Linked DNA regions of Homo sapiens. The protein of the gene in region 1 interacts with the protein of each later gene in a pairwise test. Each region holds a gene or a part of one and is shown in the gene's direction. Other genes may lie near its edges.

Region 1 (3,500 bases):
GTCTAGCTCTGTCGCCCAGGCTGGAGTGCAGTGGCCCAATCTCGGCTCACTGCAAGCTCCACCTTCTGGGTTCACGCCATTCTCCTGCCTCAGCCTCCCTAGTAGCTGGAACTACAGGCACCCGCCACCATGCCCGGCTAATTTTTTGTGTTTTTAGTAGAGATGGGGTTTCACTGTGTTAGCCAGGATGGTCTCTAGCCAGGATGGTCTCGATCACCTGACCTCGTGATCTGCCCGCCTCAGTCTCCCAAAGTGCTGGGATTACAGGCGTGAGCCACTGCGCCCAGCCCCATGATGGATACTTTTTAAAAGCTAGTGAGGCCTGACTTATTCCCTGTCCCGCCATCAATGAGACTCCTCACAGATGGTGTGGAGGGAAGCCGCCTCCCTTCGGCCTCCCTTTCCTGAGAGAATCTTGGTGGCTCTGCATCCCCAGTGGCCCTGGACACGCTCTCCCTCTGCGGTCTGTCTATCTGTCTGTCTCCCCTGGTTGGTCGGCTGGGCTCACAGTGAGCCCACCTGGACAAACATGCTGGGCCCCTTCCAGCCCCTCAAGAATCTCATCCTCCCCTGAGGAGGGACTGCTGTGCTCAGGGACGAGACAGAGCCGCCGGGGCTGGGGTTCCCTGAAGAGGCCTTGCTGCGGGAGGGATGGGGCCGAGCAGCTGCTTGTCTCTGTCACCTCTTCTCTCTGTCCTGTTCCCCGTTAACCAAGAAGCACGAACCTCACACAGAGCTCACCCATGTCAGGCAGCTTTCTGGCATCTTCCATGTCCTCATGTATTTAATCTTCAAGCACCCCACTGAGGCAGGTGCTGAGAATCTCCCGTTTTACACGTGGGGAAGCTGAGGCACAGGAAAGGAAAGCGATTTGCCCAGGTTCACCTGCAGTCAAGGGCATGGGCACACTTACACCCCAGACAGCCTGGACCCATGCTGGGACGCGAGAAGAGGGCTGGCAGCCCTGTGAGGCAGGCGGGCAGGAGGCAGGCAGGCCTCCTCCCCAGCTGCCCCAGCACCCGTGTGCCCCCAGAGGGGACGGCTCAGAGTCAGGAGGCTGGTGAGCAGGGCCCAGAGGCGCCTCCTGAGGCGCCATTCATCTTGGCCCCCCTGGCTGTCAGGAACCCCGACTTGCTCTTGATGCAGTGTCTGAGCCTGGGAGGGTCTCGCTCCAGAACAGGTGAGTGGGCTTCTCTAGGCCTCCTGTTGGACACTAGGAGGTGATGGTCATGGTTTCCTCTTCTCTCCTCTAGCTCAGTTTGCCCAGCTGGCCCAGCTGAGCCCCCAGGAGCGTCTGAGCCGGGAGACGGCCCTCCAGCAGAAGCAGGTGTCTCTGGAGGCCTGGTTGCAGCGTGAGGCACAGACACTGCAGCAGTACCGCGTGGTGAGTGGGGTCCTGGGCCTCTCCTGGGCGTGGGTGCCATGAAGTCAGTCTCTGGGGACCCGAGGGAGGGCTGGGACCAGCATGAGAGCAGAACCTGGGAGGGCAGGAGGCCTTTTTTCCTGGGGGCCTTGCGAGGCAGAGCAGCTTGGGGAGAGGGAACGGCCTGGGCCCTGCCCTGCCATTTCCCAGCGAGGCCCTGCGGTGTTCTCTGGGAGCCCAGAAGGGGCTGCTCTCCTCCCTTCCCTCAGGAGCTGGCCGAGAAGCACCAGAAGACCCTGCAGCTGCTGCGGAAGCAGCAGACCATCATCCTGGATGACGAGCTGATCCAGTGGAAGCGGCGGCAGCAGCTGGCCGGGAACGGCGGGCCCCCCGAGGGCAGCCTGGACGTGCTACAGTCCTGGTAATGGTGTGGGGCGGCCAGCGGGCAGGGCAGGAGGGGCTGGTGGGGACCCCGGCTGCTTCTGCGTCCTGTGCTGGCTCCTGCAGCAGGCCCCCTCCATCCTGGGACAGCTCTTGTTTCTCCAGGGAGCCTGGTTCCTCAATCAGACTTTGGTCCCCATCCTGTGCACCTCCCCCAGGAAGGGGGCTGCTGTCCTGGGGGTGGGATGGGGCTCGGGTGTGTGGGGTGATGCTTGGGCTGTTTGGGCCTAGTCAGGGTCGCCCCTCCTGTGTACGTCTCTAATTCTGGGAGGCAGGGAGCTCTGCTCTTCCCATGGGTGGGAAGTGTGGCGAAAGCACAGAGCCTTCCTGGGGGAACGGGAGCTGTGTCTTGGGGCCTGGCGTCTGTGAGGAGAAGCCATTGTCCTCCTGTTGGCCTTGGGGCTCTCGTGCAGGTGTGAGAAGTTGGCCGAGATCATCTGGCAGAACCGGCAGCAGATCCGCAGGGCTGAGCACCTCTGCCAGCAGCTGCCCATCCCCGGCCCAGTGGAGGAGATGCTGGCCGAGGTCAACGCCACCATCACGGACATTATCTCAGCCCTGGTGACCAGGTGACTGCTGCCTGTTTGCCATGCCCAGGAGCTTGGGGCAGCTCCTGCCTGCGTGGGGGGAGCTGCAGGTGCCTTCCAGACCAGCAGATCCACTTCCTGCCTCTCATCCCTCCCAACTCCATCTCCAGTTGCTGTGGCTGCTAGGTGCCGCCCTTGCCCAGTTTCTCCTGTGGACACTGCAAGAGATACCCTGGGCCGCAGCCCATGCCAGCTGCTGTGTTATCTCACTCCCCTCTCCATCCTCTCCCTGGACTCTCACAGCTTCCCCGGGAACAGAGGTTGTGCCCGAGCTCATCACCTCCTGAGCCCCATGGGAGGCAGCCCCACCCCCACCACAGAGGGACTGAGAGCCCTTTCCCCTGCGCCAACCCCTCATCGTGTGTCTGTCCCTGTGTCCCATGCAGCACATTCATCATTGAGAAGCAGCCTCCTCAGGTCCTGAAGACCCAGACCAAGTTTGCAGCCACCGTACGCCTGCTGGTGGGCGGGAAGCTGAACGTGCACATGAATCCCCCCCAGGTGAAGGCCACCATCATCAGTGAGCAGCAGGCCAAGTCTCTGCTTAAAAATGAGAACACCCGCAAGTAATTGTGCCTCTCCCTTCCCCTGCCCAAGCTTAGGTGTGGGGGACCTGCACCCCCCGCTTTGTCCTTGCATCCAGCTATGTCTTGTCCCCTAGTTCACCGTGTTGCCCAGGCTGGTCTCGAACTCCTGGACTCATGCAGTCTTCCCACCTCAGCCTCCCAAAGTGCTGAGTTGATAGGCGTGAGCCACCACACCCAGCCGAGTATCCGTTCTTTACCCTGGGGATGGTGTGGCTGCCGGAGAGCTGAGGCTCACTGCCACTGCCCAGCATTGTGAGAGACTATCACACCACTTTCTCCTGAAAGTGTATTGCTTCACACCATTGTAAATTCAAACAATCATGTCAAACCATCATTAAATCTGGGACAGATGGTACACTGCCTTCCTCCTACTCAGATGCCTTCCCTGTCCCTGCAACAAGCTTGGTGCTAGGCTAGATGCCGTGGCTTACCCCTGTAATCCCAGCACTTTGGGAGGCCACGGTCGGAGGATCACTTGAGCCCAAAAGTTTGAGTTGGACAATATAGGGAGACCCTCATCGC
Region 2 (3,500 bases), about 25 Mb from region 1:
TGATCTGCCCGCCTTGGCCTCCCAAAGTGCTGGGATTACAAGCGTGAGCCACCATGCCTGGCCTTATCTTTTTTCTTGAAGCCTACAGATAATTTTGTGGAAAGGAGCCAGTGGTCTGCTTTTTGACTGTGGAGATGTTTGTTTGTAGTCTAAAATGGAATACTTAGAAGTAGGTAATCTTGTGTGGCTAGTGTTGTTTGACCTGAATTGTGTCAAGACATTTTCCACAGTTCTCACACATGTAGACTCTGTGAAGTGTTAGTATTCATTTCAAAGCGAAGTTAGTGGTTGGCCACTGAACAACTTGTTACACAAAGTATTCTAAAATGGGAAATGCCATAGTATTGAAGGTTGTGGTGAGGTAGAAGTCTGTGTCTCTGAGCTGAATAAAGACAGAGCTTTTTTAGTCTGTCCTTTTGGCTGGGAAGCTAGGACACTATTTTTAGGTAAGGCTGTAGTTTTTGGGAGTAAGTACCTTTCTATTAGCTGGTAAACTTGATTATTGCATTTGTTAACAAGAAGTTTTATTTTCTAATGCCATAGATATTAAAATGCATTGTCTTAAAGTTGGTATATATTTATAGACTGTCCAGTTTTCACTGGAAGAGGAGTGATGCCAAAACAACAGGAAAAGTCATTTTTACTTGCAAAGGGCCTCGTGTAATTAAAAAATCTACAGCATATTCATGAAAGGCTAAGAATAGTGCAGAGGGACCTACAAGTAAGTAGCCCAGATCTTACAGATGCATGTGTTCTCTATTTAAGCAGTAGGCTTGGCATTAATATTGAATGTAGATTAGTCTATAATTGTCTGTCAGAGACCCTAAGATCCAAATACAGGCCCCATACAAGAAATAAGGACCTTTGCCTGTTGTTTCAAATGTATAGAAGATTTCGGGCCAGGTGTATCAACAACAGTTATCCAAGAGATGGGGAGGAACTACTTAAAAAATTATAAGCAAATTTTTAGGTTTAATTTTCATAAACTTAGGTGAATATACATGCAGATGTAATTGGATTTCTAAGTAATGTTTTGAAATGTTTTCTAGAAGAAAAGTGATACAAGTGGAGAGTATGCCATACTATCTTACCATTCATTTCAGTTGATGAGTGCAGTCAGGGTTACTTCTGTAGCATTGGCTAGAAGCAGCATATAACATGATGGTTTATTGCTTTGAGGGTGGCTGGGATAATAGTTTTCAGTAATCTTGAATCTGTTAGAAGTGAATATTCCTCTTTTTAAAAGACCACTGTAGATGTAACAGGAAGAATTTTATTTATATATACATGTAATAACTATTTTGGTCAACTTTTAATTATTCAAAAGAAATGGAAAGTTTTTCAACTAATACCAACAGTCATACCAACTTGTTTACTTTTGTGAATTGTACTGGGTCAGTTTCTCCAAGTAAGAGCAGGAAGTTGTTTGGTAAAGCAGAGTGTATACATATATCTTGTCTTTGAACAAAAAAGAACTTGATTCATCGTCAGGTTCTTCAAAGAATGCATGGCATCTTTGTTGACTGAACTATTCTGAAGTGTGAATGTTTGTGATTTTTGTCATTTCTGTGCTATATTTTAGGTGTTCTTGTCACATCTGAATTTGCCTTTTTGCTTCCTTCTGCAGAAATTATCTTTGTTGTGATGAAAATGTCCTATAATGCGAGCTTCCTGTCAGTAGGCAACGTGTTTAACTAATACAGTTTTAAAAAATTATTTACTTTTATGCAAAACTCCTGTATGCTTATGGTAAACAAATTTGAGCAGTACTTATGTAAAGTAAAAAAGGTTAAAAAAAAGAAAAGCCTCTGTTCTTCTTCTGTCTCTAGTCCTGCTCCCTTGAGCTGAATCTGGCAAACAGCTGGGTGTCATTTAGCTTTTGGAAGACCTCTCTATTCCTGAGATATTCTGGCAGTGTGGAAGTAGAGTGAGAAGTCAGAAAAGGCATGGTCATTGAACCAGAGTTTGGATGTTGTGCAGGGACTATTCTGTTCTTATTTTCTGTGATAAGTAATAATGATAAACTACCATCAGCTTAAGATAACTGTAATTTGAATTGTGAAACATGAAAACAGTTAGTTCTTTAGTCAGGTTGGTAAAGTTTTGATTTGTTGATCTTTTAAAAGAAATATGCATGAATTGAATTCATGTAATGTTAGGGCTGGTGGGGGTTAATGGTAGTAATGAATTACCATCTGTTGAATTTTAGGATAAGCTGCACAGTATATTTACTATAGGCTTTTTATAACTCATCATCTCCTTTAATTCTCATAGCAACTCACGAGATAGTTATTTCCATTTTACAAAGGAAGAAATTCAGGCTTAAGTGTGACTCAACTAATGTAACGTCACGAGACCAGTAAAGTAGTGGAGCTGGTGTTCTTCCTGGAAAGCCTGTGCTCTTCTTTCTCTAGCTAGTCTAAGTGACTTATTTTCCAGATAAGGAAATATAGGCCTGAAGAAATTAAATGAGTTGCTCAAGGTCACACAGCTCAGTAGTAGCAACATTAAACCAAGCTTGTTTTTAATCTTTGGAGGCTTATCTCAAGACTCTTGGTCTAGTGCTGGTCATGCTACATTTTATTGAACTAGTGTGGACCAAAAGACCATATGCTGGGAATATTGGATACAAATGCTTTGGAACTGATATCTTGGTGAATGGTGTTTTCTACTATGTATTAAAAAAACTTTCTTCTTTGTCTTTCAGAAATTATAAAGAGCTCTGATGGGCTATTTGGGTGATACCCAGTGCAGTGAACTGCAGGTGAGTAAGGTTTAGAACTTTATTTAGAAAACAAGAATTTTATAATGCCTGAAAGAATAAGGTGGGACAAGGGTGAAGTGATACAGGGCTGTAGTGAAACAGTGGTAACCTGAAGGCACAGATCCTAACGGAATCGGTTACTTCTGGAACAGACTGAATGATGAACAAGCTCCGAAGAGACTGCCTGCTGCCTTGTCAGGTTAGTGTGTGAAATGAGTGAGGGTAGGTTAATCTTCCACTTCTGTTCAGATGAGTAACTGCATAGGGGCTCAGCTTATCTGCGTGCTATTGGAACTTGAGAGGTCCTTCAGTTTTTGTGTCAGCATTCTTGAGTGGCGATTACTTTGTGCTCCAGTGAACTTGGTTAAGTATTGAATTGTTTTTCCTGTTATCTGCTATTTACATAGTGTCATGAATGACTGTATATATCTGCAGTTTTGAGGATCTAAATATGGAGAACATATCAATAGAAACAAAAGGTTGAACTTTTTTTCCTAGTGGTTGTACTACCTCTATTGATACTATTAGTCTTTCAGATTATTTACTTTTTGCTGAAATACCTGTTAATTAAAAACAGTTTAGTCTTGAGTATTTATTATTTCACAGTAATTAATCTTCTTGGTCAGCTATGGTGTCTTCGTCTTTCATTATTACACTTAGAAAATGGTAATACTACAGAAATAAATTAGAAGGCTTTTAATACTTTCCTTATGAGGCATCAGAGTTAAAATTATTA

What was found. The genes of interacting proteins can lie anywhere in the genome.
Region 2: the proteins of STAT5A (region 1) and HELZ interact in a two-hybrid assay, tested with the Homo sapiens proteins (one large-scale study listed by BioGRID).

What each region holds. Positions count from the first base shown.
Region 1 is NC_000017.11:42,298,498-42,301,997, forward strand, and holds part of STAT5A (signal transducer and activator of transcription 5A), read left to right. Parts: intron 1-1,253; coding exon 1,254-1,384; intron 1,385-1,632; coding exon 1,633-1,784; intron 1,785-2,217; coding exon 2,218-2,373; intron 2,374-2,777; coding exon 2,778-2,957; intron 2,958-3,500. UniProt on the Homo sapiens protein: Carries out a dual function: signal transduction and activation of transcription. Mediates cellular responses to the cytokine KITLG/SCF and other growth factors. Mediates cellular responses to ERBB4.
Region 2 is NC_000017.11:67,238,697-67,242,196, reverse strand, and holds part of HELZ (probable helicase with zinc finger domain), read left to right. Parts: intron 1-2,707; 5' UTR 2,708-2,764; intron 2,765-3,500. UniProt on the Homo sapiens protein: May act as a helicase that plays a role in RNA metabolism in multiple tissues and organs within the developing embryo.